2 linked regions of the Homo sapiens genome follow. The protein of the gene in region 1 interacts with the protein of each later gene in a pairwise test. Each region holds a gene or a part of one and is shown on either strand. Other genes may lie near its edges.

What was found.
Region 2: the proteins of RHOBTB3 (region 1) and RAB9B interact in a two-hybrid assay, tested with the Homo sapiens proteins (one study listed by IntAct).

Annotation. Positions count from the first base shown.
Region 1 is NC_000005.10:95,729,734-95,745,258, reverse strand, and holds the start of RHOBTB3 (rho-related BTB domain-containing protein 3), read right to left. Parts: upstream 13,924-15,525; 5' UTR 13,577-13,923; coding exon 13,575-13,576; intron 13,567-13,574; exon of another isoform or gene 13,401-13,566; coding exon 13,175-13,400; exon of another isoform or gene 13,157-13,174; intron 8,371-13,156; coding exon 8,184-8,370; intron 1-8,183. UniProt on the Homo sapiens protein: Rab9-regulated ATPase required for endosome to Golgi transport. Involved in transport vesicle docking at the Golgi complex, possibly by participating in release M6PRBP1/TIP47 from vesicles to permit their efficient docking and fusion at the Golgi.
Region 2 is NC_000023.11:103,815,731-103,831,255, reverse strand, and holds the end of RAB9B (ras-related protein Rab-9B), read left to right. Parts: intron 1-4,177; 5' UTR 4,178-4,251; intron 4,252-5,429; 5' UTR 5,430-5,471; coding exon 5,472-6,077; 3' UTR 6,078-8,929; downstream 8,930-15,525. UniProt on the Homo sapiens protein: The small GTPases Rab are key regulators of intracellular membrane trafficking, from the formation of transport vesicles to their fusion with membranes.

The sequences.
Region 1 (15,525 bases):
TTTAACTTTAAAAAGAATTTCAAGAAGCTGAGCATGATGGCGTGTGCTTAATTCCAGCTACTTGGAAGGCTGAGGTGGGAGGATCCCTTGAACCTAGGAGTTGGGGGCCAGCTTGGTTGACATAGCGAGATCCCATCTCCATTTTTTTAATTTTTTTAAATTTTTATGTATTTATTTATTTATTTTGAGACAGGGTCTCACTCTGTCGCCCAGGCTGGAGTGCAGTGGCATGATCTCTGCTCACTTCAACCTCTGCCTCCCCCAGGCTCAAGTGATCCTCCCACCTCAGCCTACCTAGTGGCTGGAACTACTGGTGTGCATCACCACACCTGGCAAATTTTTGTATTTTTCCTAGAGATGGGGTTTCACCATGTTGCCCAGGCTGGTCCTGAACTCCTGATCGCAAGTGATCCTCCCACCTCAGTCACCCAAAGTGCTGGGATTACAGGCGTGAGTCACCGTGGCCAGCCCCATCTCTATTTAAAACAAAAAACAAACAAACAAACAAAAAGTTAAAAAGAGTTCCAAGGGAATTACCAGGAGAGCACCCAACACAGTTTCATGTATTCCAAGGGATGGATGGGGGGAAGCCAATATAGGTCCTCGAGTTGAATAGCCAGATTTAGCTTTGTAATTACTTTGTAATTACATCTTGTATGGCAAATTAATTTCATCTTGTTAGTGAAATTGATTTTTTCACTTACTCAGATCATCCATAAAACCATTCACTCATTGAATAAACGTTTAGTGAGTACCTACCACACATCAAGTGCCAGGGATATAAAAATGCAATGATATAAAAACTCATAGTCAACTGAGAGAAGATAGACATGACTGCAAACAGTTATAATATAACATAATAAGCACTGAAATAAAGATGTCCAAAGCCACCACACAACAGAGGAGAGAAAGTTAACTGTCTGGGGGGATTACGGAAGGCTTCACAGAAAGTGTAATGATTTAAAAGATAAGTGTGAATTTGCTATGCTGATATGATAGGGGCTGTGTAGAGGGGCACTACAGTTAAGAATACAGCATGTACAGGGGACTGGATGTGAGAAGAAAGGAAAACATTCATTTCCAGTTTCAAGATGGAAAGCTAAGCCCACACTGTGATCTCCCCTCCCTGCCAAATCACAGAGATGATGAAATAAAGGGGGAAGGGGGGAGGAGAGAAAGAAGAGAGGGAAGGAGAGAAGAGGGAAGGAGAGAGGGAGGGAGGAAGGAAGGAAAGAAGGAAGGGGGAGAGGGGCCAGGTGCATTGTCTCATGCCTGTAATCCCAGCACTTTGGGAGGCTGAGGCAGGTGGATAACTTGAGGTCAGGAGTTCGAGACCAGCCTGGCCACTATGATGAAACTCCACCTCTACTAAAAATACAAAAATTACCCAGGCATGGTGGTTCATACCTATAATTGCAGCTACTTAGGAGGCTGAGGCAGGAGAATCACTTGAACCTGAGGTGGAGGTTGCCATGAGCTGAGACTGTGCCACTGCACTCCAGCCTGGGCAACAGAGTGACATGCTGTCTCAAAAAAAAAAAAAAATGGGGGGGAGGAGAAGAAGGGAGGGAAGGAGGGAAGAGGGGAGGAAAGAAGGAAGGGGGAAGGAGAAAGAGAGGGAGGGAGAAAGACAGGGAGGGAGGCAGGAAGGACTGAATACACAGCAACACTCAAAAACTAGAGGGGAAACCTCATCAGCCCAGAAACTAGGAGTGCTTGAGAGAATGAAGGCAGGCAGTACAGGACCGAAGAGGCCTCCTGAAGCTCTGAGTACAGGCTCACACTGCAGCCACACCTAGAGTGCTCCCTGCTCAACAATGCAGGGAGCAACAAGGAGGAGGCGGCCCAAAGGCAAATGACTGGGGATGAGTGGGAGAACCCCAGTGGAAGCAGCCAAGCCTGTTGATCCTGGGTGTTTTCCTACTTACACCCCCATCCCCAGACAGCAGCTGGGCAGAGAAAGAGGAAGGCATCAATCCAACAAGGAAAGTCAACTGCAAAAGTAGGCAAATTAAGAATTCCCCAATGTTTAAGAAGTATCCATACCATAAAATAAAATCTCATCAAGTAGAACGACTTATAATGCCATCTTAAAACCAAACTTAATAGAAAAATCAAAACTGAATTATTAAGCATCATTAATTATCCTGAGAGTTTTTTTTATTTATTTTTTATTTTTTTATTTTTTGAGATGGAGTCTCGCTCTGTCCCCCAGGCTGGAGTGTAGTGGCGCAATCTTGGCTCACAGCAACCTCCGCCTCCCAGGTTCACGCCATTCTCCTGCCTCAGCCTCCCGAGTAGCTGGGACTACAGGCGCCCGCCAGCATGCCTGGCTAATTTTTGTACTTTTAGTAGAGACAGGGTTTCACTGTGTTAGCCAGGATGGTCTTGATCTCCTGACCTCATGATCCGCCCGCCTCGGCCTCCCGAAGTGCTGGGATTACAGGCATGAGCCACTGCGCCTGGTCTGAGAGTTTTTTTAAATAAAAGTTTGCATCCTTAAGATTGGAACAAGAACTTATGAAAACAGCCATTAGAGATCTGGTATGAAAAGCTTTTGAAATAAAAAATTTAATAAGGCAGAATAGCAGAACAGACCCAGCAGAACTAATGTGTGAACCAGAAGAAAAGGCCAAGGAACTCTCCCATAATGCAACACAAAGAAATAAAGCAATAAGAAATATAAAAGAAAGATAAAATAATCAGAGAAGAGATCCAGAAGTTCCAACATCAGTCTAACAAAAGTCCCAAAAGAAGAGAATAGAGAAAATGGATGGATGGTGATATCTGAAGTCACACAGTTAAGACTTTCCTAGACCTAAAGAAAGACATTAAGTTTTTCAAGTAGTTCAGTGTGACTGATACATAAGGCAGGGGATTGTGCCCTGCAAGATTATAGAAACAGTCAGAGGCTACCTCATGAAGGATCTTGTATTTCAGGTAAAGATTTTACAAGAAAAAGTTATTGAAATGAGATACGAATACCAGATTGAAATAAGGGCATCAGTGCCCATAATTTAAATAAAAAGTATAATCCCTAGCTCTAGCCAATTAAAGGGCGCAGAAGTAAAGACACCTAAAGTCATGAGCATCCTAGAGCCCAGACCTTGGTTTCTAAATATCATTGCCCCCTAGAAGGAACCAGAGTTCCTGAAGAAATGGCTGATTCTAGGACTGGGATAGGCAAAGTCTGAGCCTGGAATATCTTGTGCCAGAAAATAAGGAAGGGGCTAAAAACTGATTAGAGGTAGCTTGAAATGACTCCCTGCAAGCAAATATGGAGCAATGTGAGCATCCAAAAGAATAATCAGAACAGATCACAAAATACTGAATTTAAAATAGAAATCCATGAATCATAATAATTCTAAGAGAAAAATTTGGGAGCAGAGAAAAAGGAAAGCTCCATTTACAGAAGAATATCAACCAATAAGTATAGGAAGAACGATAGAAACATCACTATTTTGCAAGCACATTTATCATAAATGAAGGAATTATGCAAACTAAAGGGCCTGGGCTCATTAAAAATGTTCATATTATGACAGACACGGTCCCTCCCCCCAAACCCACTGGGCGTACTGCTCCAGATTAAAAGAGATTAGAAGGCAGATGTGGTCATGCATGCCTATAATCCTAGCTACTTGGGAGCCTGTGGCAGGAGGATTGCTTAGGCCCGAGTTCAGACCAGCCTAGGCAACACAGCAAGATCCTGTTTCTAAAAAAAAAAAAAAAAAAAAACAGAAAGAAAGAAAAAAAAAAGAGAATTGAGAGATATAACAACTAAATGTAATGTGTAATATTTAATTGCATCCTGGATTGGTTAAAAGACAACAACAATGATAAACCCCAGCTATAAAGCACATTATAAGGAAACAACCGGGGAAATGAAAATATGGATTCTATCTCTTTTTTTTTTCTTTTCTTTTTTTTTTTTTAGTCAGAGTCTCGCTCTGTCGTCCAGGCTGGAGTGCAGTGGTGCGATCTCGGTTCACTGTAACCTCCGCCTCCTGGGTTCGTGCCATTCTCCTGCTTCAGCTTCCTAAATAGCTGGGACTACAGGCACCTGCCACCACGCCTGGCTAATTTTTCATATTTTTAGTAGAGACCGGGTTTCACCGTGTTAGCCAGGATGGTCTCGATCTCCTGACCTCATGATCCACCCGCGTCGGCCTCCCAAAGTGCTGGGATTACAGGCGTGAGCCACTGCGCCTGGCCAGATTATATCTTAAATAATAGTAAAAATGTAATAGTATGTTAGATTTCTTGATTGATGATTGTATTAGGCTTAATAAGATAACGGCCTTGTTCTTAGATGATACATGCTAAAGTAATTAGGAATAAAGAAATCTCATAATGTTTACAATTCACTCTCAAATAGTTCAGCCAAAAAAAAGTGTGTGTGTGTGTGTTTATAAAATCTAGGGTTCAATGTCTTATTCTTGTCAACTTTCTTAGGTTTGAAATTTTGCAAAATAAGAGGCAAAGAAGAAAGTTCTCAAAGAATTCAAAGCATTGAGCGCCATGATCTGACTTGTATTCTAGGATAACTATTCTGAGAGAATTTATTTCAGAAAGAGACAAACCAGGAATAGCACACCAGAGGCCAATTTACCATAAAGCTGATGAAGCTCAAGCTTCAAGACTCTTTTCTTGTGGATCCTTTCCAAGCCCCAGGAAGAACCTGAGCAATATATCTTCACATGGTCATATTCTTTTGTAAAATTTGCAAACTAAGATATTTAGTCAAGACTATTGTCTCTTTCCACTCCAAATCACTTCATCTTGTATCAGGCAGCTCTGGAGTAACTGTGGGCATTTGGGGGATGTTGCCAAAGGGAATTTAACCTTAGGCTTAATGAACTATTTGTGGTTTATAGTCACTTCCATGTATAGTTGAGTGTGTGATAACTGATAATCAGATTCCACTGATTATCATTCTCATCTCTATAGAAAATATCATAAAGTGGTTGTATTAGTCTGTTCTCATGCTGCTAACAAAGACATACCTGAGACTGGGTAATTTATAAAGAAAAGGAAGTTTAATGGACTCATAGTTCCACATGGCTGGGGAGGCCTCATGATCATGATGGAAGGTGGAGGAGGAGCAAAGTTACATCTTACATGGCAGCAGGCAAGAGAGCATGACCAGAACTGCCCTTTTATAAAACCATCAGATCTCATGAGACTTACTCACTATCATGAGAATAGCACAGGAAAAACCCGCTCCCATGATTCAACCACCTCCCACCAGGTCCCTCCCATGACACATGGGGATTATGACAATTCAACGTGAGATTTGTGTGGGGACACAGCCATAACCTATCAGTGGTTATCATATGAAGAGATGACCAAAGACTATGGTCACCCAAAAAACATAAGAAAAGTTGAAGAAGTATCAGGCTGTTAAAAAGATCTGTTGCCAGGTGTGGTGGCTCACGCCTGTAACCCCAGCACTTTGGGAGACTGAGGGGGGCAGATGGCTTGAGTCTAGGAGATGGAGACCAGCCTGAGCAACACGGCAGAATTTCGTTTCTATAAAAAAACTGGCTGGGTGTGGTGGCACGTGCCTGTAGTCCTTGCTACTCAGGAGGCTGAGGTGGGGGGCATCGTTCAAGCCCAGGAGGTCCAGGTTGCAGTGAGCTATGATCATGCCACTGCACTCCAGCCTGGGCAACAGAGCAAGACCCTGTCTCAAAAATATATACATACATTTAAAAATGTCTGTAGTATTTGACAACTTTTTAGTTGTAATTTGTTGTGCTTTCACTTATCATTCTAAATATTTACTTTTGTACATATATGTATCTGTTATTTTGTGGGTTTTTTTCCTTATGAAGGACCTCCCAAATTGTGTAAGTTTGAGGCCCTACAAAATCTGAAACCATCCCTTAAAGAGACCAAAAAGAAGGCCACCATGACAAATAACTAAATGACTAGAATGCGAAATCCAATGGAGATGAAGAGAAAGTAATGAGTTTGAGATTTGTTTAAAATGTAAAAGCAAAAGGGCTTCTTAATCAACTGGATATGCGGAATCGGGCTGGGTCTAGGATGATTCTTGTTTGGGTGAATGGATAGGACTGGCATCATTCACCAAGACAGGAAATTTGGCCAGAGGAAGATGATGTCTATGGTGATATGTGCCAGGAGCAAGACTAAAGCCAGAGAGACAGACTGAACAGTTATCGGTGTTTATATAGGAGAAGCCAGGACAACAGATTAGCAGGTTAATGGTTTGGCTGAAGAGTAAGAACAGGTGAGGTCAAAGGACGGAACCCTGGGAAACAATTCTGCTGTGTGTGTGTGGGAGGAGGGGAGAAAGGCAAAGGAGACAGATAGTTAAAAGAACCAGTAGCTTTATTAAATGGAGGGAGAGGTATGTTTCAATAATTTCAACAAGAGATAAGTATTATTATCTCTTATCTCTTCGATAAGAGATAATTGTTATTAAAGTGTATTAAATTTGGCTAACGAGGACATAAGTGGTGTCTTAGTCCGTTTTGTGCTTCTATAATGGAACACCACAGACTGGGTAATTTATAAAGAAAAGAAATTTATTTCTCACAGTTCTGGAGGCTGAGATGTCCAATATCAAGGTGCTAGCATCTGGTGAGACCTTCCTGCTGCATCGTCCCATGGTGGAAGGCAGAAGTACAAGAGAGCTCACAAGACAGAGGGCAGAAGGGGGCCAAACTCATCCTTTTATCAGGAGCCCACTCCCATGATAATTAACCCACTTTAAAGATAATAGCATCAATCCATTTACGAGGGCAGAGTCCTCTTGCCCTAATTACCTCCTAAAGTCTCACTGCCCAACACTGTGCCATCACATGAACTTTGGGGAACAAATTCAGACCACAGCAACTGGAGACCCTGAGGGAGAACAAACTTGGTGCACTTGTGAAAGTCAAAGTCAGACTGTAGCGGACTGAAGAATGAATAGGAAATGGACTCAGGAAGTGCAGATAACTCTTTTATGAATCATGACCAGAAATAAAAAGAAAGATAGGGAAGTAGAGGGGATATGGGGTCACGGGTAGGTCATGCCTGCCTTACTTGTATCTACTAATGCTATATATATACCTGCCCTCTGACCCAACAATCCCGCTCCTGGGTAACGACCTAAGCATCCTCAAAAGAAGAATGGATAAATAAATTATGGCATATTCATACAATGGACTAATATATAGTAATAAAAAGAACAAACTACAGATAAACACAACATGGACAAATCTCAAAAGTATTATGCTAACTGAAATTAGCCTAACCTAAGGCACTACTACATACCATATAATTTCATTTGTATGAAGTTCAGAAATAGGTAAAACTAATCTGTGTTGTTAGAAGTCAGAATAGCAGTTACCTCTGAGGAGGAGCGTTATTAACTGGGAAGAGCATGAGGGAGCCTTCTCAAGTGCTGCAAATGTTCTATACCTTGATGTATGTGGGTTGCGTGGCTGTATACATAGGTAAAAATGCATTTAGCTGCACTCTAAGATCAGTAAACCTTATGTCCTTTACTTCGCAATACCTCAATTTAAAAGTTTTTAGAATAATGTGTAAAAATAAAATTTTAAAAATAGCTTTACTAGGAAATACCACTAAGAAGATCTGTAAAATACCACCAAATCAAACTGAATCCTGAGTTGGCCCTAAGATATCTGACAATAATATGCACAGCAGCAATGGCTGAAGCAGCCTGAACCCAATGAATCTATCAGCCATGGAATAAGCAATCCTTTCTTTTAGGCAGCACTGTCAGTGTTTCCAGCTCACTCATTGTTATCTACCTAAAAATCCTGCTCCCAAGCCCACATCTTCATGTGAACAATCTATCCTTCCCAATCAGGTAGACCTTCAGATCATCAAAAAGAGTTTTCTAGGGCTCAGCATCAGCCTAATACCTCTCATATGTCAAAATAATACAATTGCTGACTTCCATCACTACTGTAGAAGAGCCATTTAGAAGACAGATTTGCACCCAGTGGAATCACAGCAGAAGTTCATGATCCTCTCCTTTGTTGTTTTTTTATCGTATCAAATGATGAAGCGATAGCAGCTGGCATTGAACCAAAGTCATTTTGGTTTTCAAAAACAAACCCTATTATCCATTAATAAACTTAGCACTATTTAAAGTATATATAATATTTGCATGCTCACTACAAAAAAGAATATTAAATACTTACCATTTTGTCTGGTACCAACAGCAGCAATAATTACTGGAACTGAATTTAATGCTCTTTTTATCACTGGAATATAATTATCCTTTACTTCATGGAATGAAAACTTGTCATTAACGTTGTATTTGATCACAATGATGTCAGCGCCCCCAATTAGATTTCGAGAAGTGTACCAATCACTGTCAAATATGTCCTAAACCAAAATGCAAATAGCAATCTTTAGTCTACTTATCGTCCAATCAATCCTGAAATAATTTATGACATTAATTTTTGGAATTCATAAAAAATTATTTTAAAATAAGTAACTACTTGAAATTAAAAGTGTTGCAGTCTGCCAACTCTCTTTTTAAAAATGTTTACTTACTCATGTAGCCTGGACAATTATGTAATGGTTAAACAGGAGAACCTGAGAATTCTTGAGAGTCAGATAAAATAAGCAACCTCTTTCACTATTTGCACTTAAAAATAAGCCCTTTGTTTTAAAATTACACTATATTTTTATCACCTCATAAATTCAAAAGTGTAACATTATGGCATTAGATGGAAGAGCAACAGTATGAGTAACGAAGCTTCAAAGGTTTTCCTCTGACCCAGTTAGACACTGCAGGATTTTCAGTGTTCTGAACTGCAATACATTTTAAATTCTGTGAAGTTCCATATACTTTATTCATATTTTCAAAATTCATGTATACTTTTCAACTTTATCCATCCTTTGGACAGTACTGTATATAAAGAGTATGAATGTGGGGTGAGGGAGAAATTCCTTTACTAAAAAAAGAGATACTGTGTATTACAAGGTGTTAACATGGTAAGGAATATATTTTCAATTCACGTATTTTGCCTACATAAATTAAAAATTCAGGATAAACTCTTCTAGTTCTGAAATATTTACTTTTGTGCTACAGCTAATAACATTTATATTTATTTAGAACTGGGGCCAGTAAGTAATTTATTACAAACACTATTCCTTAAAAATATAATGTTTTGATTTTTTTTCTGTCGACCAGCATGGAGTCCAGTGGTGCGATCTCGGCTCACTGCAGCCTCCACCTCCCAAGTTCAAGCAATTCCTGTGCCTCAGCCTCCCGAGTAGCTGGGACTACAGGTGTGTACCACCATTCCGGCTAATTTTTTTGTACTTTAGCAGAGATGGGGTTTCAACCACAATGCTCAGGTTGGTCTCCAGCTTCTGAGCTCAGGCAGTCTGCCCACTTCGGTCTCCCAAAGTGTGAGGATTACAGGCATGAGCCACCGTGCCTGGCCTGGGTTGATATTTTACATATAATTTTTCAGTTTCTGTATGAATAGTGATGTAAGGAAAATATCTTTAGGTATCTTAACTCCACTACCAAATAATGTACAAGTAGTTTTCTTCTCACATTCTAGTTAACTATTAATCATTTGTCTTTTTATGTGGCCTTTGGTACACATTTCTAGGATGTAATAAAGCTAGATTAAGAAAATAGCTAGGTCTGACTAACAGGTCCAAAAGCTGTTGAGCTAAGAAAGTTCAAACTTTGAAATATGAGTCTAAAACAGGGTTAACAGTGTTTGAATCAGCCAACCAAGGTCTATGTGACAGAGCTTTTATCCTACGATGGCACATTCTGGAGGAGTATCACACAGCAATGCCCTTCTGAAGAGAGAGCTTCTTCTCATCAGTGCCTCCCCCAGTTCCCCATACCCTCCCAGCCACTCATTTCCCACAAGTACACTCAGAGTAACAAGAACTGCAGAATTTTTTGTCATGAATACCCTATCAAAACTGGGATGTGTACAGTATTTTTGAAGGGAGGTAAAAGAACCAAAAAAAAAAAAAAAAGGCAAAATATGGACTATAAACAACAAAGGCAAAGGGTTGAACTTGGTAGAGGGTGCAAGGGGGCAGAAGGGAAGTGGGACACAGTGCAGAAAAATGGGAAAGCTTCCCAGCAGAACTCTCAAACTGCCAAATCCCAAACCACACAGCTCATTCAGTTCCAACTGCATCTGTTACAGCGTTCAAGTTCAAAGTATCCAAGTATAACAGAGTGCGTAAGTATAACAAGGAAGACAAATGAGATAAAAAACTAAACAAAAGTGGGGCCAATATTAAGCAGCCATTTAACTCTGAGAGAATAAATCAAAAGTAGCTGCTTTTTGAATTCCAAATAGTTCAAAATTCCAGAGTTACTGGAGAGGTATCCGGGGAAGGGGAGGACCTTTAAGGGAAAATGTTATGAAAAAATGGGTCTGGGCATCCTTAACTCTGTGGGATTGAGGATGTGAAGACTATAAATACTTAATTTGTAATCCAAATCAGAGCTTCAAACCCTGCAAAGAAAACTGTAAATCTATTAAACTACCTCACTGCTTTTTGTGGAATATTTTTAATAAACAGTAAAAGATATAGAAACGTGAAATGAAATAATAATGTACCACACCAAAAAAACGGATGGGAAAGAGAGAGAAAGACACACTAAATAATGTGCTACATCTAATGAATCTGCAGCACATTTGTTTTAAAAGTGCCAAGTATATAAGGCAAGGATCCAGGGTAAGGCTAAGGATCTATAGAAGAGAACTAGGGAAGGGAAACACAGCTACCTCATTTCAACTTCAAGGCAACAACAACACATCTCTTCTCAAACTATGCCAAAGAGAAAATACTCCAAAGATTTCTAGAATTATGAAGAAAATCAAATTCTCCCACCCCTTGTAAATCAGTTCCAGGGTTTCCTCTCGGGGTTATGCAACACAAGGCTTGGAGCCACATTTGGAGAATTGAACTCATCTTTTAAAAAAAAAAATCTGAATTTCTACAGTGAAACTATTTTATTTTACTTGATTGTGGGGCTGCATGTATGAAGTATGAACATCGCTGCCCCAGTGTACTGGTACTGTAGTTGTATAAATCTTGAATGACCTGTGAAAATCTTACTTTTGCTTAGTATTAATATAAGTGATACATAACTAAAGTTGTAACACTTTATTTTTATATTAGCTACCACTTATAGAGCATCTACTAAATGCCAGCCTCTATACTTAGAACTTGACACGTGCTAGTTTCTCATTCACTTCTCAGCACAGCTTTAGGAGGCATATTATTTTATAGATAGGGAAAATAAGGCTGAGAGAAGGTAAGTGATTTAACAAGGACACACAGACCTGAAATGGCAATGTGGGAATCTGAAATCAGATCCTTTTGATATCAAAGGCTATGCTCTATCTGCTCTGCTATATTTAATATTCTGGTTCCGTACATACGTCAAATAACAGTTGATTAATGCAATCAGCTTTAGAATCTCTGATGGGCTTTACTTACCACCAAGTGAAGAAAAGCACCTTATAAAGAGCAACTCTAGAAATGGAATCTCATATCTGAAGATCATTATAACCTAGAAAATTGTACCTGGTTACAAACTTGGTGCCTTAAATAGGGCCAGAGTCTAACCAAACAAAAAGTTATTAGCAAGATAAACCATAACAACCAGCATATGGCAAAAATCCGTACTATAGAGGTTTATTTTCTCCATTTGGAAGATTTCATTTTACTAGACAAAGTGTATGGGATCACAAGCATTACTGTTTGCAAAATTAACAGTATAAACAGGAAAGTGTTAACAGCTCAAATTAAATACGGGAAAGCAATCCTAACATCCTAATGTAGCTAGTTTTATTTTCCCTACATTTACTCGATTCGCTAAACATTTATTCAACTGCATGTTGAACCGTCATGTTTTTAGGCTGTAAGATCTTTCACAACGAAAGATCCCAAGTAAAAGAAGTGTTTCATTTGCCTGCATAGACTCTGACCAGTAAGTTCTCCATCAATACTTCTTATGAACAGCATCATCACTATCATAACTAGGGGTTTAATAGTATCTCTTAATTGAAAAGGCCTGTTTTTTATTTTACCAAATTAACATAACTTTCTTCTTTAACTGAAAACTTACACGAGCGAGTGATCTTTTCGTTCTGTTATGTGGAACTTTGCATAAGAAATTTTTCCAAGTATATTCTACACATTTTTTAGAATGGCGTGATACTTTCCTATAGTCCTAATTCAGTTTTTTTAATATTGCTGTTTAAATGTGAAATCTTACACAACGATAATTTGTATCTTTTCAGGCACTAAACTTTCTTCTGTTATTAAATGTAACATTTAGCTGAAACATACGTAACTCCAATATCAGTAAAGAATCAAAGATTTTCAAATAAGACTAAAGGAAAACATTCAAACATAATGTTATTGTATGCTGAAAATATTTATATGTGTCAGAAAGTAAGTTCCTTTCTCCCTTAATCAAACACTCAAGAATCGGACTATAATTTATCCACTTCACTACTATTTTGTTCAATTATTACAAATTTTAATTTTTTAAAAGTTTTCCAAACAACATTAGTAATGTTATTTCTGATTTATGAGTCACTAAGACAAATGGCTAACACATAAAGAGTATTTGCATTATTAAAATTAAGTTTTCAGAGATCAATTAATAGTGCTATAAATGAGTCATTTAAAATTAACTCCCAGTCCCTGTCTTTTCCTCCGCTTTCCAGAGGAACTATTTCTGAACTGTCCCAGTGAAAAGTATTTTTGCCTGTGTTGAGCTTTGAGAGGGATGTATTTTTAGAACACCAATATTACACTATCACCCATAGGGTAGACATAAAAAAACACTGCTTTTTGCTGATGAAACTTAGTGACCCCGTCCCTTGGAGTTGGCACATTCAACTGTCTGCTGCCTACCAAGGGTCAACCCACAGTCGTGAAGTGTACCAGTAAGTGCTCCACATTCCCACTGGGGCCTTCTATCTTCCTAAGAGTGTTCTCTGACAGGGCTGTTCCCTGCCCAGTGAAACAAAGGACCAAAGATTTTCTCAAAAATGTTTAAAAATTTGACCCATGTAACGCGGACACTCCACACTCACGGAAGTGGGCAGAAGGGGGAGGGGGAAAAAAAAGGAAAGAAAAGCTTCTTCAGCCTCAGCGCGGAGCAGCTGCTCTTCCTTACCCAGACGGGACAGTCGTGGACCACCAGCTTGACATTCCCAAACGCACTGGCCTGATACTCGGTGAACACCGGACGCGCGACCGTGCTGGCCGCGTTCAGCAACAAGCTGCTCTCGTCCCCGGAGACCAGAGGGCTTCTCCCCAGGTAAGTGCGGATAAGCCCCGACGGCCGGTTGTCCTGGTGGAATGTGTCCCCCTCGTTCCCCAGCGCCACGATGTGGATGGACCTGCACGGACAGAGGGGGCGAGGGGAGAAGGGAAGCACGGTCAGCGCGCGGGTCTCTCCTCGGAACAGGAAGTGCGGGGGACAGCGCGCGGCGAGGATGGGCACCAGCCCCTGTCCCTGGGGCGCACGGCACGCGCTGGAGAGAGACAATGGCAGGACGGCGGCGCGTACGTACATGATCTCAAATCCAAGGGCAGGGCGGCGACTCGGAGAAAAGCAGCGGCTCACGGCTTCGCGGGGCCCCCGGGCGGCGAGTTCACCCGCAATCCGCTCATCCCCGGCCGCGTCCCCCTCGCGCGCCTCCACCGCGGCGGGGCCGACGCAGAGCGGGGCCGGGGCCGCGCCAGCCAGCGAGCGAGCCGGGGACCAGGGCGGGCTAGCGGGCGGGGGATAAGCTGCCGCTACTCAGGGAGTGCCCGGGAACATCGCCGGGCGCGGGACCGCCGCACAGCCCCAAGTGGACGCAGCTGACCGCAGTCCCCTCTCCGCCGCGCCTCCTCGGCTGGCAGCTGTCGCCTCCTGCTGCCGCTGCCGCTGCTCCTCCTCCTCTAAGCAGAGAAGGGGGGTCGGGGAGATCGGGGCCTCCGCCCCCTCAGCGGACCGGGCGCAGCACGTGCCAGCCCCGGGGGTCGGGCGGATGCGGGGGACGCGCTCCCCGCGGAGGCCCCGGGAGCTCCGGTGGCGGCGGCTGGACACAAAGGAGCCGCCCGCGCGGGGCGCCGCGGAATATAAATTAATAAATACAACGCCCCAGCCCGAGAGCTCCCAGCCGCCAATCCGCCTGCAGCAAGTTTGTTCAACTCGCAAGGCCGTAACCAGAGCCAGGAAAGGGGGGTGGGGCGATGGGGCCCCCGCTCACTCCGGACTGGAAAAAGGAGGTTAGGGAAGCTAGGGATTCCAGCCCGAGTGCCGCCCCAGCAACCCGATTTCCCCCCCTCTTGGCCTTGACCGAAAGTGCTTTACCACGTCTGCCGCTTTCTCATTTGTCAACATGCGCTACAGCTGTTTTCTAAAATCATACTTGTGAGAAAAAATAAAGGCAACATTCATGCTGCTGCAGAAAGAGTTCTTTGTTCACACACCAATTAATTTGCTAATGTCGCCTTGGGGGGATTATTTACTATTTCAAGCTATATTTAGCGTATTTTACCGAAAACTTCAGGATTTTAAATGCTGGGATTTTTAGTGTGATCGTTTTTAAAGGAAGTTATGTATGGGGGTTTAACGTGTTGGTAAGTTAAATGCCAGTTTACTTGGAGATTTTTCTGTACACGTTATGGCCACATATTTAATAATAGCTCCGCAGACCAACTGAAAACATAATCACGTAAATGCAAAGATACTTTAGATTCTTTCATAATAATGCACTGAAGTAAAGGCTATGAATATCCCTAACGTGCTTCAAACTACCTCGATACAAACGAACACTGGGATCCACTTACTAACACCAAAATGGGCCAGGGATTACTCTGGGGTTAGACTCCTCCATACAGTATTAAAATTCTAACCAGTACCTTACTCTGTGTTGAAAAGAGTTCTTGCTTATCCTTTTATCTGTTTATTTTTCCCTTCTGTAAAATTGGACTGTTTCTTTTCTCAGCTGAGCTATTTTGAGGGTATGAAAGAGGGGGTATTGAGTAGGGCAGTAAAAAAACTAGGGCAACAGCTTTTTATTATGGGCCCTTATTGCTCGGTTGAAAGTAGTTTAATAGTTTCTCGTGCTCAGAGAGGATATAATGGGAGATATTCTTTATGTGGTCACTGTTTTTTTTTTTAATCTAATTTCCCTTTGCATTTTCTACGATTTCTCTTTGAGTCTCTAGAACCTAAACCATCCTTAAAAATTCCAGCATGCAAGATCACTTTTTCTCTTGGGTTAATAGAAAATATATTTTCTCATCAGTCTTTTCCGGAAACCCATAAGTCAAAAACAAAGACACTAGAATGGATGAATGGATAAAGAAAATGTGGTATACACATGTAATGGATGATTAGCGTTTAAAAAAGAAGAAAATTCCTTCATAAACTACAACATGGATGAACCTTGAGGACCTTGTGCTAAGTGGAATCAGCCAGTTGCAAATCACAAAAAGTGATTCCATTTATATGAAGTATCTAAAGTAGTC
Region 2 (15,525 bases), on another chromosome or scaffold:
GTATTGGGTTGTATTGGAAACACACTCAAACATTCAATCATTTCTCATCCGTGTTGAATTTTACATAAATATAGCCGCGCCCAATTCTTCAGTGCAATATTTCCAATTATTGTGCCAGCATTCAACAGTGAGTTGAGTAGCCCTTACCAGTGTGTCGCCACAAGATGGGCTTTCCCCACAGGTCCAACCATGGCTCCTCCCCTGTACAGACTTCCAACAGTGCCACTCTCATCCAGTGCCTAGCCCTCCCCAGTTGCTCTTCCCCTATCGATCCCTGCAGTACACATCCCTTTCAAGACTTGCCTCCGAGCAATCTGCACTACTGATTTTGAGCATCATTCCACTCCATGGCAACTGAACTGATGCGAATTTGCTTTTCTGCCTCTCTTCTCTCCATCATCATACTAAAATGTACTATTTTCAAAGGTTCAACTTCTTTTTCTTCATTGTACTGCCTCCTCCCCCACCTCCACTCCCACCTCTAAGCATTCCCAACTAAATACAATAATTTGAATAAGGCTTTGTGGGTACTGCAGATTCAGAAGGTTTCAAGTGTGTTAAAGAACAAAGAGCTGGGGAGTATTGGTTATGGAAATTCCTAATTCACCTTACTCTCCAAGACTGAGACCCTGATGGGAAAAAAAAAAGTTAGTAAACTATCCTTAGAGCATGCTCATTAATGAGTTTGTGGGGGTAGGAAAGGGGAATTGCGTCTCTCGAATATTTTACTCAGTTAGAGTCAGATCTTTCTCTGAATGGGATCAAAATCAGAATAAGCGTTTTGGTCCAAATGCTCGCCCGACAGAGGACCCATAAGGGATGCATACGTCATTTGACTTTCCTATTTACGTATTTAGTGTTATCAAAGAATTCATTTGCCTGCTTAATGTTACCTTGTTTAAAGGTTTGGATTAAATCCGGCATATTCTGGGGGAGGAAAAAATGATTTCATTTGCTTTTACACTGTGCTAGTTCTTTTTAATTTAAGTATGTACTAAAGGACATGACATTCATTTTCAAACAATGATAAATGATTGTGGAGAGGCCAGCACCCACCGACAACATCAACTGGATATCATTATTCTGCTCTTGTTTTGGGTAGGAATGGGGAAATGTATATACTTATTTTTAAAATGTGAGAGTAGGGGGAGGAAAACTGGAGCATTTCCCTTGACTTTCAACAGGTGGAATTCCCATTACTCCCCATCCAGAAAATGATCGAGTCAAGTTCATAACTTCTGCTCTTTAGTTACCTTATAAATAATAGTATTTTGGCATCTTACAGAACTATGGATCTATTGTACCTTGGCATCAATTCAGAGGCATTAATTCTGGGCACCTACCTAATCATTTAATTGGTAAACAAATATTTATTATCTCCATGGAGGATCCTGGTGCTGCACACTGAAGGGGCTTCAAAGATGTATACAGTGAGCTTACTATCTAGGAATTTAAAATTGATCATGTAAGAAAGACAGGAAAAGTTTGTTAACAAAATAAGTCAGTATAATGACATTATTTCAACTGTAAACAATGAGATCCTGAGCTTGCATGTTAATTTGTAAACTCCCTGAGGGCAAGACCTTGCCTTAAACATTTATTAATTCCCAACAGTATCTACATCCAATGGATGTTTGAGTGATGAAGCTTTGCAAAGTAGATTGAGTGGGGAGACACCAGAAGCAGGGAGAGAAGAACTTTCACAATAGATTAGATGTGAGAAATTGTGGGCCAAAATGAGGATGGTAGCACAGGACTAGAAAATGATACTTCAAGGGAAAATCAGCAGGATTGAATGAAGGCAAGGAGACAAATCTAAACTGTATTCATTTTTACTTCTAGAAAATAAATGGGAGTTGGAGACAGCAGAGGAGAGTGGAGGGTTTCCTTAGTAAGGACACAACACACAATAGGCACTGTAGTGTTTTCTCAAATATCAGTAGCAAGATTGGACCAGAAGACCCTGAAGGTCCCTTCAATGCTGAGATTCTGTGCCATATGCAGATGTTCAAGCTTGTTGAGGAACAAGGCATTCTCAAATATGGAAGAAAGAGAAAAGGAAGAATTCTTATACTTTCACTAGCAGGCCCTTTCTGAGAAGGGTTAATACTGAGCCACAAGGCCCCCACCAGTGCATGAAAGGAGGTGGAGGAGCCAGAGGAATAAAAATCTCAAACCAAATTTTTCAAAAAATGCTTACAAATCTTTGCAAACTTCATAAGCTTTTCATTCTCCCCCAAAATCCTGTTAAGTAGGGCAGGTATTATCTGCTCTATTTTTATGTAAGAAGATACTGAAACAGAAAGATTAAATGACCTGCCCAAGTTCATAAAATAAATGAATGGTGTAACAGTGATGAAGACCCTGGTGTCCTGATTACTGCCAGCTAGCTCAGTGCTCTTGACACTGAACCACATTGCTTTTCCTCTTTTTCCCTTGGCATAGAGCCTATAGGCCCAGAAGTTATGTGTGCACATAACCAAATAGGGAATGCACAAGCAACTGCAGCATTATCTCAGACAGTTATTAATACATCATCATTATTCCTGGAGCTGAGCATTTGGTTTCCATATTCACTCAGTCCTTGACCTGTCTATTGAGTTTATCTGCAACTGGGAGAATAGGGTCAGTGAGTCTTTTAATGATGTGAACGCCTGTTTGCTAGGAACTCAAGGAAGCTTGTGTGGCCTGGACGCTTAATACTAGCCATCAGAATCATGCCCAAGTTTGTACTTCTGTTGCTTTTCAAAATGAGAGTTCAAGAGTTTTGCTCTGTAAAATTATCCTACAGACCAGTATAAAAAAATAAAAAAGTGTGCTAACACTTGTTTCATCTCCATTTAAAGAAATGTTTGTTACTTGAGCTAATTCCAAAGACAGCAATTTGGGAGCAGGAAAAAGAGGACAAAAATTAGGAATTGTAGGAAACTTGAGAATTCTGTAGAGTGTATATAAACCAAGAAGGAGGATAAAGCCTATCCATTTAGGAGATATTATTTAAATTCATAATTACTGATTTAGATATCTAATGAATCCTTATTATAAGTTTTATCTATATTTAGAAAATAACATGTGATTATTAAGCAGCAGATTTTTTTTTAAAGCTTCGTTCTTCCTCAGTAAGAAATAACACTACACAGATCTAGGCACTGTTTTTCTTCTTAAACCAGTACTCTTGATGCTGCTTAAATAAGATTCTTGCCATAATTAATTATAATATTAGATGAATGTATATTTAAATTTAATAACACCAGCTAAATATTAAAACTGGTGTTTAAGACAGATGAACTGCCAGGTACAGCGGCTCACGCCTGTGAACCCAGCACTTTGGGAACATGAGGTGGGCAGATCGTTTGAACCCAGGAGTTTGAAACCAACCTGGGCAACATGGTGAAACCCCATCTCTACAAAAACTACAAAACTTAGCCGGGCATGGTGGTGCATGCCCGTAGTCCCAGCTACTCAGAAGGCTGAGGTGGGAAGATTACTTGAGCCCAGGAGGTCGAGGCTGCAGTGAGCCATGACTGCACCACTGCACTCCAGCCTGGGTGACAGAATGAGACCTTGTCTCAAATTTAAAAAATAAATAAAGAAAAGAAAAATGACCTAAACTAATTAATAAAATAATTAGCCAAGATAATATACTTTATTGTAAACAGGAAGCCCACAAACACAATTTTTTTCTGCTCTCTAATTATGTGGAATCAATTGCAGAGACAACCTTGAGACAGACTGGTGAGTGCACTAACAACTTTCTTGGAGATGGGAACGTTGGTAGGTATAAAAGGAAGAAGTTTCATCTCCGACTTAGGATTTCAGCATATCTTAGATTGCTCTGTACTTTCCTTTTCCTGAATGTCATCTATTGTGAATATCATCTTTCTTTAATTTGCTTTTACTTTGAATGGAGAATTCAATTGAGAGACAATATAAAATGTAAAAAATTATATAAATTACAAATTAGGATAAGTTAAAGTTCTTGGAATAAAATTATTTTGCTTATGTTAAGCATAGGTAGCATTTTGAACTTTTATTTTTGAAAAGCACCCTCTGTAGGTTACTTGAGGTTGCTGTGGGTTCTTTTTTTTTTTCTGACTTGAATATATTTTTATATAGAGCCTTAACGTTATTTTATTATAGATTTTTTTAAAATAATGTTTTCTATTCTGTTTTATAGCACCCTAAAAAGAAAGAATAAAACAACAACAGGAAAAAAAGGAAAATATTTAAATTGTGACAAAAACCCACTGGGTAGGTATTTCAAGGGGGCACACTGTGGATTTGGGATATTTTAATATTTGATCTCTTAAAAATGAATATTTAGAAAAATATATAGCTAGTACATAGGCATTCCAAAATCATTTTAAGGGCTACTAAATTTTGTAAAATTATATTCAAATGTGTGTGCTTCCAGAAACTGTTTTGCATGCACTCCTTCGATTAGTGATTCGTTTTCATCCCTTTGGGTCTATTGTATAAATATCATCCAATTAACCTCATCACCGTTGAGTTCCCACAATAGACCTAGTGGGAAAGTACCTAACAGAATATAGGAAAAGGTAGTATTTGTTCAGTAAGCATTTGATCTTTTTATTTTAAGACACATTCTAGGTGTTCCATGTGTAGACATGTTGTGGAGGTAACAAGTAGGGTACTGTATAAATATTAGCACTTTAAATTTTGCAGTATGTTTTCAAATGTTGCTATTATGGAATTAAAACCTGAATCCAAAAACTAATAAGCTATTCAAGATTTCCTTCCTTCATGACAGCTGTTATATTGATATCAGTCAATTGTCATCAACTTAAATGCCATTGTTCCATGAAGAAAAAAATATAGAAGATCCTTACTTGAGAGGGTGTTCCTATCAATGCAAGTATAATGGGGTAAATGCCTGAAGAAACGTAACCTTGTTCTCTCTTTCAAATTCTGGGGTGCAGTCTAATTCTGGCCCAGACCTCTACCGACAGAATCAAGAATCCAGTTTATGTAGCTTTCTCTTCTCAGTAATTTTTGTATCCATCAGGAGCAGACTTCAAACCCCAAGTCAATTTCATACTATTTGTCTATTGTTTGGAACTGTCCAAACCGGAAGCTAAAGTTGTCACACATTTGAGTGGCATTCCTGTTCTAGGCTTCCTCTCCTAGAATTGGGTCAGAACTGAACCAAATTACAGGACCATCTGCTAGTCCATTTACCCATGGCACTCAGCCATTTTCCTGGCACAACAAAAGACCTCAGAAAAACAAGACCTATTTTTCCCCTTATGCAAAATTAGTGTTATTTCTTCTGCTGTACTACATCAATTAATGAGCATAAATCAGAGAAGTTGAATGAGAAGGCCTTATAATTCAGAGAAATTTGCTATGAAGTTGATTTCAGTTTCAGGTTTAACTGTTTTCCCTCCTACTTTTCCTTTTATTTTCAGGTTCTCTTGGTTACAAACTCCTTCCCTTCTGGTGCTGCAAAAATGAGTGGGAAATCCCTGCTCTTAAAGGTCATTCTCTTGGGTGATGGTGGAGTTGGGAAAAGTTCGCTTATGAACCGTTACGTAACCAACAAATTTGACTCCCAGGCTTTTCACACCATAGGGGTAGAGTTCTTAAATCGAGATCTGGAGGTAGATGGACGCTTTGTAACCCTCCAGATCTGGGACACTGCAGGGCAGGAACGTTTCAAGAGCCTTAGGACACCCTTCTACAGGGGAGCAGACTGCTGCCTCTTGACCTTCAGCGTGGATGATCGGCAGAGCTTCGAGAATCTTGGTAACTGGCAGAAAGAATTTATTTACTATGCGGATGTGAAGGACCCTGAGCATTTCCCCTTTGTAGTTCTGGGTAACAAGGTAGACAAAGAGGATAGGCAAGTGACTACTGAGGAGGCACAAACCTGGTGCATGGAGAATGGGGATTACCCTTATTTAGAAACTAGTGCCAAAGATGATACTAATGTGACAGTGGCCTTTGAAGAAGCTGTCAGGCAGGTGCTGGCTGTAGAGGAACAGCTGGAGCATTGCATGTTGGGTCACACCATTGACTTGAACAGTGGCTCCAAAGCAGGGTCTTCGTGCTGTTAAAGATAGGGAGCCTTTTAAAAATGTGCCCCAAATTGATCAGTCAGTAGTGTAAGAATAACTGTGCCCCTCTAAGAGTGCACACACACGCACACAAGAGGGTAAGAGACAAGGTTCTGATTGTGAAACAGAGCCTTTCAAATTGAAGTGTAGATTGATTTAAAAAAATTAAAAATTAAAAAAAATGAAGCTCTATCAAGCCAAGTGTATTTTGCGTGATTTCTGCTATTTCCCCTTCTTGTGTGTCTCAGGACATATCAGAAAATTTTAGTCCTGAGACAGTTAAATATTTTTTAAATCACAGTTTAAACCTAGAACCCAGCTGCATGAAGGAGTTAAAGAGCTACAACTATTTCTTAAAGTGTTCCATTAATCAACTAACAAATGTCACTATCAGACTCTTGCCAAGCAGTTTCTGACATTTCTGCCAAAGGGGAAAAAAATCAGACTTTGAGCTGTATTACAATAAAAATAATAATGCAAATAAGGATTCCTAGGCTTGAATTAAAGAAGTTGTAATGATTAGGAGTGCAAAAGTATAATGATATACACTGACTTGTTTAAATCCTTATGTATGGTTCGCTCCCATCTGAGCTTTTCAAAAAATCCCATCTCAATAAGAGATACTCTAATGACACTGGCAATTGATTATACTTCTTGTGTTTGAAGTCATAGGATACTAGTGAATGGATTATGCTTAAATATGCCAACCACCTTTGCAAATAAATGGTTGGTCTGCTTTTAATTCCTAAGTCTACTTTTGCTGCATAGAGATGTTGCTTCTCTGACAACCTCTTACCAATTTAGCAATGCTGCTTAGTATATGAATTTGGATGCAGTGCTCTCTGCTCATCATTTAGATGGTCCTTTGATCCAACATGCTGGGCTCATGGAGAAGGCTTCATAAAAGATTGGGGGATAATGAACTTTTCTCACAAGGCTCCTTAACTCAAATATTTATTGCAGAAGAAGGAACTGGTTTCTTATATGTTGCACTGTATGTTCAACTAGCCTAATTAGGACATTGAAAGTGACAGAAGAGCAGATCTTAACCCAGTGTTAGAATGAATTTCCCATAAACAGAGTTGTCCAACAGTGGAATGGACTGCCTTAATAGTGAGCTCCCTGCCTCTGAAAATATTCACTGGATGACCATCTGTTAGAATACCATAAAAAGATTTTCTGTGCTGGCTACATGTTCAATATAAAGTCCTTTCTGGCTCTAAGTTCTATGAATATATAAACTACATCAGTGCCATGCTGTGGTTAGATTTATCTGATGATAACAGCTAAGACTATGGAGAGGGACTTTAAAAATTCTCAAACCATTCTGTGATCAATCTTTAACAGCAACTACATAGCTCTTCCTTTTGCTTTTGCACTGTGGCAGGAAAAATTCTTGAGCTCTGAGTAATCTTTATGTGACTGATAAAAAACATCTTAAAGCTCCCATGTTAAAATATAAAAATGGTTTGACAATTTTTGATTACCATGACTGTCAGTTATATACTATATTATGAATATGCAGTGTGGTTCTTGTTGGTTGATCTGTTTACCCTGCATAGATTTTAATCTGTACTTTAAAACATCTATGATAAAAATAGTGACAGACAGAAATTACCCCAAAAAGAGACCTAGGCCAGGAAGGGGGTGGGAGCTTTCATAGGAATACAGCCTAGAACTCTCCATTGTAGCCACGTATGGAATCAGCCTTACTTACATGTAGGACCTTTGTGCTTTAAGAGCTCTGGGACATATTGGCCAAATAGAAAAGAAGAGGACAGTATTTCAACTCAGTCATACTCAATATTTCCAATTAAGATATAATCCTGACACCATTGTTCAATTAACTTTGACGCCAGAAGTCAAAGCCAGAACTGGGACCCCACAGCTCTTAAGTACTGGTCCCTATCCTGCCTATGCCTATAGCCAGCCACACTGGTTTCCAAGTTCTGTGATCATTTTGCTACAATCATGTTAGGGTGAAAATCTGTACGTCAGAACTGTTAAATGCTAATTATTTTTAAGTGCATGAGACCTGGGGCCTTCTCTTTCTACTTGCACTCTGCTTATACTAGTTTCTATTTGTAGATCTCAGGCCTTCATCATAAAGACCTCTATCAACTCACAAAAGTATTTGTCTCTATTAGAGTGGCATGTGGTCATTTGAGTAAAAAAAAAAAAATTACATGGGTATCGGATTCATAGGCATCCTGTCCATCTAAGACAAGTGTTAATTTTATTGGCCCATCAGCTGGAGCCCCTTTCCTCTTAGCCATACCATTGTTTTCTACCAAATTACCACTCAATATCTTAATGAAAGCACTCAACATTAAGTGACATAAACAGTGGCATTTGGGTAAGCAACACTCAGTGGGGTGCTGACATACAGTTTGGGTAAGATTAAAAAACACCAAAGGCTGAAATCTGTGAGTACCAAGAACTGTGCATATAGGTTTAGAAATTGACTGTGTACCCTAGAATGTGCAGTGTAATATTTTCAATAGGTGTTTTTTTAAAGAACACTAGATTTTTGGAATAATATATTTCTAATTAGGACTATACTGTTTTTCAATGGTCTGTTAAAACATCATACAGAATATTTATTTAGTTTATTGTCATGTATTGGCTAACTTTCAGGGGCCTCAGATTCCATATGTCTTCAGTGGATTGATGAATATCAGGTTAATTTGTGCCTGCCCCAGCCATCTCTACTTTATTCTGAGGTATTCCACAATCCTCTTGTTGCAGGTGCTGCTAAAAAAAACTCAAAATTGTGTATCAAATATTTTCTTTCAACTGTAAAAAATCATCTGTGTTAAAGTGAATAAAAAGTGCATTTTGAATAACCAGCACACAATGTTTGTGTTTATTCCCTCCCTTTCTCTTTTTGAGAAATTGGTGGGTGTGATGGACAGTACTTATTAATCAAGTCACTCTTTCAGGCTGCACTGGATGTGGCCTCTGGATCATGTTTCATGTGGTACTCCAAGCAGCCACTATCTAGTGATCAGATATTTCTATACTGATTGTGAAGCAAACTCTAAAGATTGGGGCAGGGAGGTCCTTTTTATTTTATACCACTTTCTTTCTATTTATTTAGTTATTAGAGACAGGGTCCCTCCATTGCTCAGGCTGGAGTGCAGTGGCGCAATCATGGCTCATAGCAGCCTCAAACTCATGGGTTTAACCACTTTCTAATGCATGACGTGTATTGGGACTGGAAATTGAATCTTAACTTTCCACTTTATTTCTTTATTATAATTTAAAACCATTACTTAATGGATACAATGTACACTATTCTGGTGATGGGTACACTAAAAGCCCAGATTTCAATCTGCAATATACCCATATAACAAAACTGCACTTGTGCCCCCTAAATTTATACAAATAAAAGAAAAAATATTATAATAAACAACGTTGCATAAAAAATAAGATAAATGTTAAACCATCAAAAAATATAAACAGAGTAGACATATTCCCTTTATTTTCCTGACTGGTGAATTGTCCAGACCTTAGGAAAACATGAAAATATAGGTGAAACAAATAAGAAAAGCAAAGAATAATTTTGTTAAATATTCTGTTCTCTTGCCTCTCACATATTGGATTTTAAAGATACATTAGCACCCAATGGCTTGAATATACATAATGGCGGTTTTAAAATTATGGACACAAATCTTTCCACAGCATATATAGTTTCATTACATTGATTCCATCTGCCACAGATTTCACTCTCTTCTCTCTGTCTACTTTTGCCTGTTGCAACTTTGGGCAGTTGAAATTGGGGGTGGGGAATTTGTTGGGAAACAGATTTTTTTTTTTTTTTTTTGCCACATGTACCATTTCCATCTCTGAGGATTATAATTTAACACATTATCAGACCATGCTTCAAATGCAGCACCCCAAATCATTTTGACTAGTCTATAATGATGCAACTTTTAGAATATAGAAAGTCATAGATTTATAAGCCACTTAATAAGGATTTGCTCATTTGTAACTGATTATTTTTTTTTTTGAGACAGGGTCTCGCTCTTTTGCCCAGGCTAGAGTGTAGTGGCCTGATCTTGGCTCACTGCAACCTCCACCTCCTGAACTTAAGCAGTCCTTCCACCTCAGCCTCCTGAGTAGCTGGGATTACAGGCATGCACCAGCATGCCCAGCTAACTTTGTGTGTGTGTGTGTGTGTGTGTGTGTGTGTATGTGTGTGTGTGTGTGTGTGTGTGTGTGTGTTTGAGACAGGGTCTTGCTCTGTTGCCCAGGCTGGAGTGCAGTGGCCTGATCTTGGCTAACTGCAACCTCGGCCTCCCGGACTCAAGCGATTCTCATGCCTCAGCCTCCCTAATAGCTGGGATTACAGGCGCCCGCCACCACACCTGGCTAATTTTTGTATTTGTTGTAGAGACAGGGCTTCACCATGTTGGCCAGGCTGGTCTTGAACTCCTGGCCTCAAGTGATCCACCCACCTGGCCTCCCAAAGTTCTGGGATTACAGGTGTGAGCCAATGCACCGGGGCCCATAACTGATATTTTAAAAACAGAATGCCAACTTCCTGTCTTTAATGTTTTTCTGCCTCATTCATAACCCAGTGGGAAATCTCCTCATGATGTCTTAAGAAACAGTACGGTCTCATTTTTTGGAAATGGTTTGGCGATAGTCCTTCCAGAAACAGGAAGGTGTGGAATACATAATTTGTCTTCCATCTTGTAACTGTAGTTTTAAAACACACTGGAAAATCGAGGTATCAATTTGAGTAATTTCAAGCTGGGAGGTGGGATGGACATCTCTACTTTCATTTGAATTACCCAAAGTAGATCTTGCAGCAATTTTTTTTCCTCAGTGATCTAGATAATCATTTCACTTTTTTTCTCTCTTTGCTGTGGAAATGTAAAATTTACTACAGTGCAGTGTTTTTCTTACACTTGATTTTAGGGCAGATAAACTGTAATATACTGTCTTAGCCCATTTGGGCTGCCCTAACAAAATACCATAAGCTTGGTAGGCTATAAACTACAGAATTTCATTTCTCAGCTCTGGAGGCTAGGAAGTCCAAAATCAAGGCATCCGCACATTCAGGGTCTGGTGAGGTCTTGATTTCTGGTTCACAGATGGCACCTTCCAGCTCTGTGGAAGGGGGAAGGGGTTTCTCCTGGGCCTCTTTTATAAGGACACTAATCCCATTTATGAGGGCTTCACCCTTGTGACCTAATCACCTTCCAAAGGCCCCATCTCCTTATAATGCCATAACCTTGGGGGGTTAGGATTTCAACCTATGAATTTTGGAGGGGGACAAAAAGATTCAGAGCATAGCATACACCTTTTGATAAAACGTTAATGTGCATGATTTGGGATATTCACTAATGTTTTCTTTTTCCAAACTGGTCATTTTAATTTCCTCAAGTTTCCATCACCAAAAGAGCTCTCATTCTTTACTACTTTCTCTTTAAGAGAAGGAAGGGATAATGACAAAAGCTAGGCATGTTTATGGAATAAAGGAAAAATTATTAAATGCCTTCTTACTGATATGCTTGCCAAAACTGGTGAGCAAGGATCTCTTATTCTGCTAGTGATGGTAGTGGTAATAATGTGTGAAAGGGTTTTTTTTTAAGGGGGCAAGAAGTTACTTAATATTTTCCCAGTGAAAATAAGCATCTTCACAGCTCAAGATGTGGCGTCGTCACCTGTAGTCATATAGAAACTGCTGCAGTGATCTTTGTGTCTTCATAAATCTCTTTGCCTTCTCCAAGGAAACACAGAGAATGATGATTCAGTTATATATAAATGTCTTTTTAAACAGTGGGTTTTGTGTGTGCAAGCATGTGTATTTTTAAGTAATCTGTCAGTTCCTTTCGTGCTGTATGAACTATGGGTAAATGTATAATGGTCTCACTATAACACTCCTGAATTTTAATCAGACCTGCCAAGCTGTGCCACATCTAGTTAACTGATTGATAAAAAGAATTGGGAAATGCTGCCTTAATGAAAGAAATAGCTCTTAATTCAACATTAGCTATATTGATTAGAGTAAAAATACAAATCACACTTTCCTGTGGTGCATTCATGAGGAAGCAAGAAACAGGCTCATATCATCTCTTTTCTCTTACGTTGTTCCTGGCTGCCTTAGAAACGACATATCCAAGGGTGTGTCCTGTAATATATTGCTCAACATAGAGTCTGTTAATAGATGAACAAGTGCCAGTAGCCTCTGAGTTCTCTCTTTTTCCATTTGTTCCCTGCTAGAAAACTTAGAGTGACCGATAAATGCTTTAAAATGTTCTTTTTTTCTGATTACAAAAGCCATACACATCCACCGTAGAAAAATGAAGTAATGAAAGAAATAGAAAAGCAAGATTTAAAAAATTAAAGTCATCTGTAATGTAATCCTATTAACCTGAGATAAGCAGATTTTAACATTTTAGTGTAGATTTTAATATATTTATGTATTTTTAAAATTGATTTGATACTGCACACACTGTAATCTTTTTTACTTAATATATATCTATAGTACTTAACTTTTCTCTAAGACATATATTCTTCTAAGATTATATTTGCTGTTTGCATAATATTGTATTGAAGGGTTTACCACAATTACCCATATTGCTAAACTTTTAATAAAACACTTATTGCTAGACATTTAGGTTGTTTTACAGCTGCCTTCTTTTCATAAAATAAAGCATCAGTGAAGTTCCTTAATATCAATCTTAACTCTCACCTCTGTTTATTTCCTACTAGTAAAATTTCTAGGTCAAAGATTATGAATTTTTTATTAATTTTAATATATACTGGCAAATTGGCCTCTAGAAACTTATCCCAAATGACATCAACACCAGTAGAATAAGAGGAAGACTATCTTTCCAACACCCAAACGTATGGACTATTATCTTCCTTTTTAACCCCATATGTGCAGTCTGATGGGTGAAAAAATGATCTCATGCTGTCATTTACATTTATTTAATTTTTTGAGAGTAATTGTTTATACATTCATTGGCCATTTTTATTTTTCCTTGAGTGAATGGACCCTTATGGGGGTTGGGGAACATTCATTTTTGTTTCTTATTGATTCCAAGGAAATCTTTTTTTATATTGTGGGTATTAACCTTTGATCTTATCCACATTGCTAGTTTTCTGCAATCCCCTCCCATAGATCTTGCCTTTTAATTTTGTTTATGGTATTTTAAAAATATACTGCCATATTATAGAAAAGGTTATGTTCTGATAAATTAGAAAACTGGTGGGTTGGGGAAAGAGAGGTGCTTATTTGATTTGTCCTTTGTTTCTGATTATACTCGAGACTACTTTTGTTTAGAAAGGTTATGAATCTAAGCTTTGGTCACCATGATAAAAGAATTGCTAGAAATAAAAAATATTCATTCATCCAGATGCTTTAATTGCATGATGTCAAATGACTGGTTTGAATTGAGTCTACTGCTGTAATAATCAGATTATTCTGAAGCCTTGTGTTAAATATAAATGCAGAGATAGAAACAGTTCCACTTTCAACCACAAGGGGGCAATAAAGACCGGTTAGTGTTCCGCCATAGACTAAACTTATATATATGTGTGCATATATATAGTATATATAGAGAGAGTATATATATATATTATATGTATACTTTAATTTCTGGGTTACATGTGCAGAACGTGCACATTTGTAACATAGGTATACACGTGCCATGGTGGTTTGCTGCACCCTTCATCCCATCACCTACATTAGGTAGTTCTCCTAATGTTATCCCTCCCCTAGCCCCCAACCCTTGACAGGCCACAGTGTGTGATGTTCCCCTCCCTGTGTCCACGTGTTCTTATTGTTCGACTCCCACTTATGAGTAAGAACATGCGGCGTTTGGTTTTCTGATCTTGTGATAGTTTGCTGAGAATGATAGTTTCCAGCTTCATCCATGTCCCACAAGAGGACACAAACTCATCCTTTTTCATGGCTGCATAGTATTCCATGGTGTATATGTGCCACATCTTCTTAATCCAGTCTATCATTGATGGACATTTGGGTTGGTTCCAAGTCTTTTCTACTGTGAATAGTGCCACAATAATCATACGTGTACATGTGTCTTTATAACAGAATGATTTATAATCCTTTGGGTACATGTCCTGTAATAGAATTGCTGGGTCAAAAGGTATTTCTAGTTCTAGATCCTTGAGGAATTGCCACACCATCTTCCACAATGGTTGAACTAATTTATACTCCCACCAACAGTGTAAAAGCGTTTCTATTTTTCCACAACCTTTCCAGCATCTGTTGTTTCCTAACTTTGTAATGATTGCCATTCTAACTGGCTTGAGAAGGTATCTCATTGTGGTTTTGATTTGCATTTCTCTAATGACCAGTGATGATGAGCATTTTTATATGTATGTTGGCTGAATAAATGTCTTCTTTTGAGAAGTGTCTGTTCATATCCTTCACCCACTTTTTGATGGGGTTGTTTGATTTTTTCTTGTAAATTTGTTTAAATTCTGTATAGATTCTGGATATTAGCCCTTTGTCAGATGGATAGATTGCAAAAATTTTCTCCCATTCTGTAGGTTGCCTGTTCACTCTGATAATAGTTTATTTTTCTGTGCAGAAGCTCTTTAGTTTAATTAGATCCCATTTGTCAATTTTGGCTTTTGTTGCCATTGCTTTTGGTGTTTTAGACTTGAAGTCTTTGCCCATGCCTATGTCCTGAATGGTATTGCTCAGGTTTTTTTCTAGGATGTTTATGGTCCTAGGTCTTACGTTTAAGACTTTAATCCATCTTGAATTAATTTTTGTATAAGGTGTAAGGAAGGGGTCTAGTTTCAGCTTTCCACATATGGCTAGCCAGTTTTCCCAGCACCATTTATTAAATAGGGAATCCTTTCCCCATTTCTTATTTTTGTCAGGTTTGCCAAAGATCAGATGGTGGTAGATGTGTGGTGTTATTTCTGAGACCTCTGTTCTGTTCCATTGGTCTATATATCTGTTTTGGTACCGGTACCATGCTGTTTTGGTTACTGTAGTCTTGTAGTAAAGTTTGAAGTCAGGTAGCTTGATGCCTGCAGCTTTGTTCGTCTTGCCCAGGATTGTCTTGGCTATGCGAGCTCTTTTTTGGTTCCATATGAAGTATAAAGTAGTTTTTTCCAACTCTGTGAAGAAAGTCATTGATAGCTTGATGGGGATAGCATCGAATCTATAAATTACTTTGGGCGGTAAGACCATTTTCATGATATTGATTCTTCATATCCATGTGCGTGGAATGTTTTTCCATTTGTTTGTGTCCTCTCTTATTTCCTTGAGCAGTGGTTTGTAGTTCTTGAAGGGGTCCTTCACATCCTGTGTAAGTTGTATTCCTAGGCACTTTATTCTCTTTGTAGCAATGGTGAATGGGAGTTCACTCATAGTTTGGCTCTCTGTTTGTCTGTTATTGGTGTATAGGAATGCTTGTGATTTTTGCACATTGATTTTGTATCCTTAGACTTT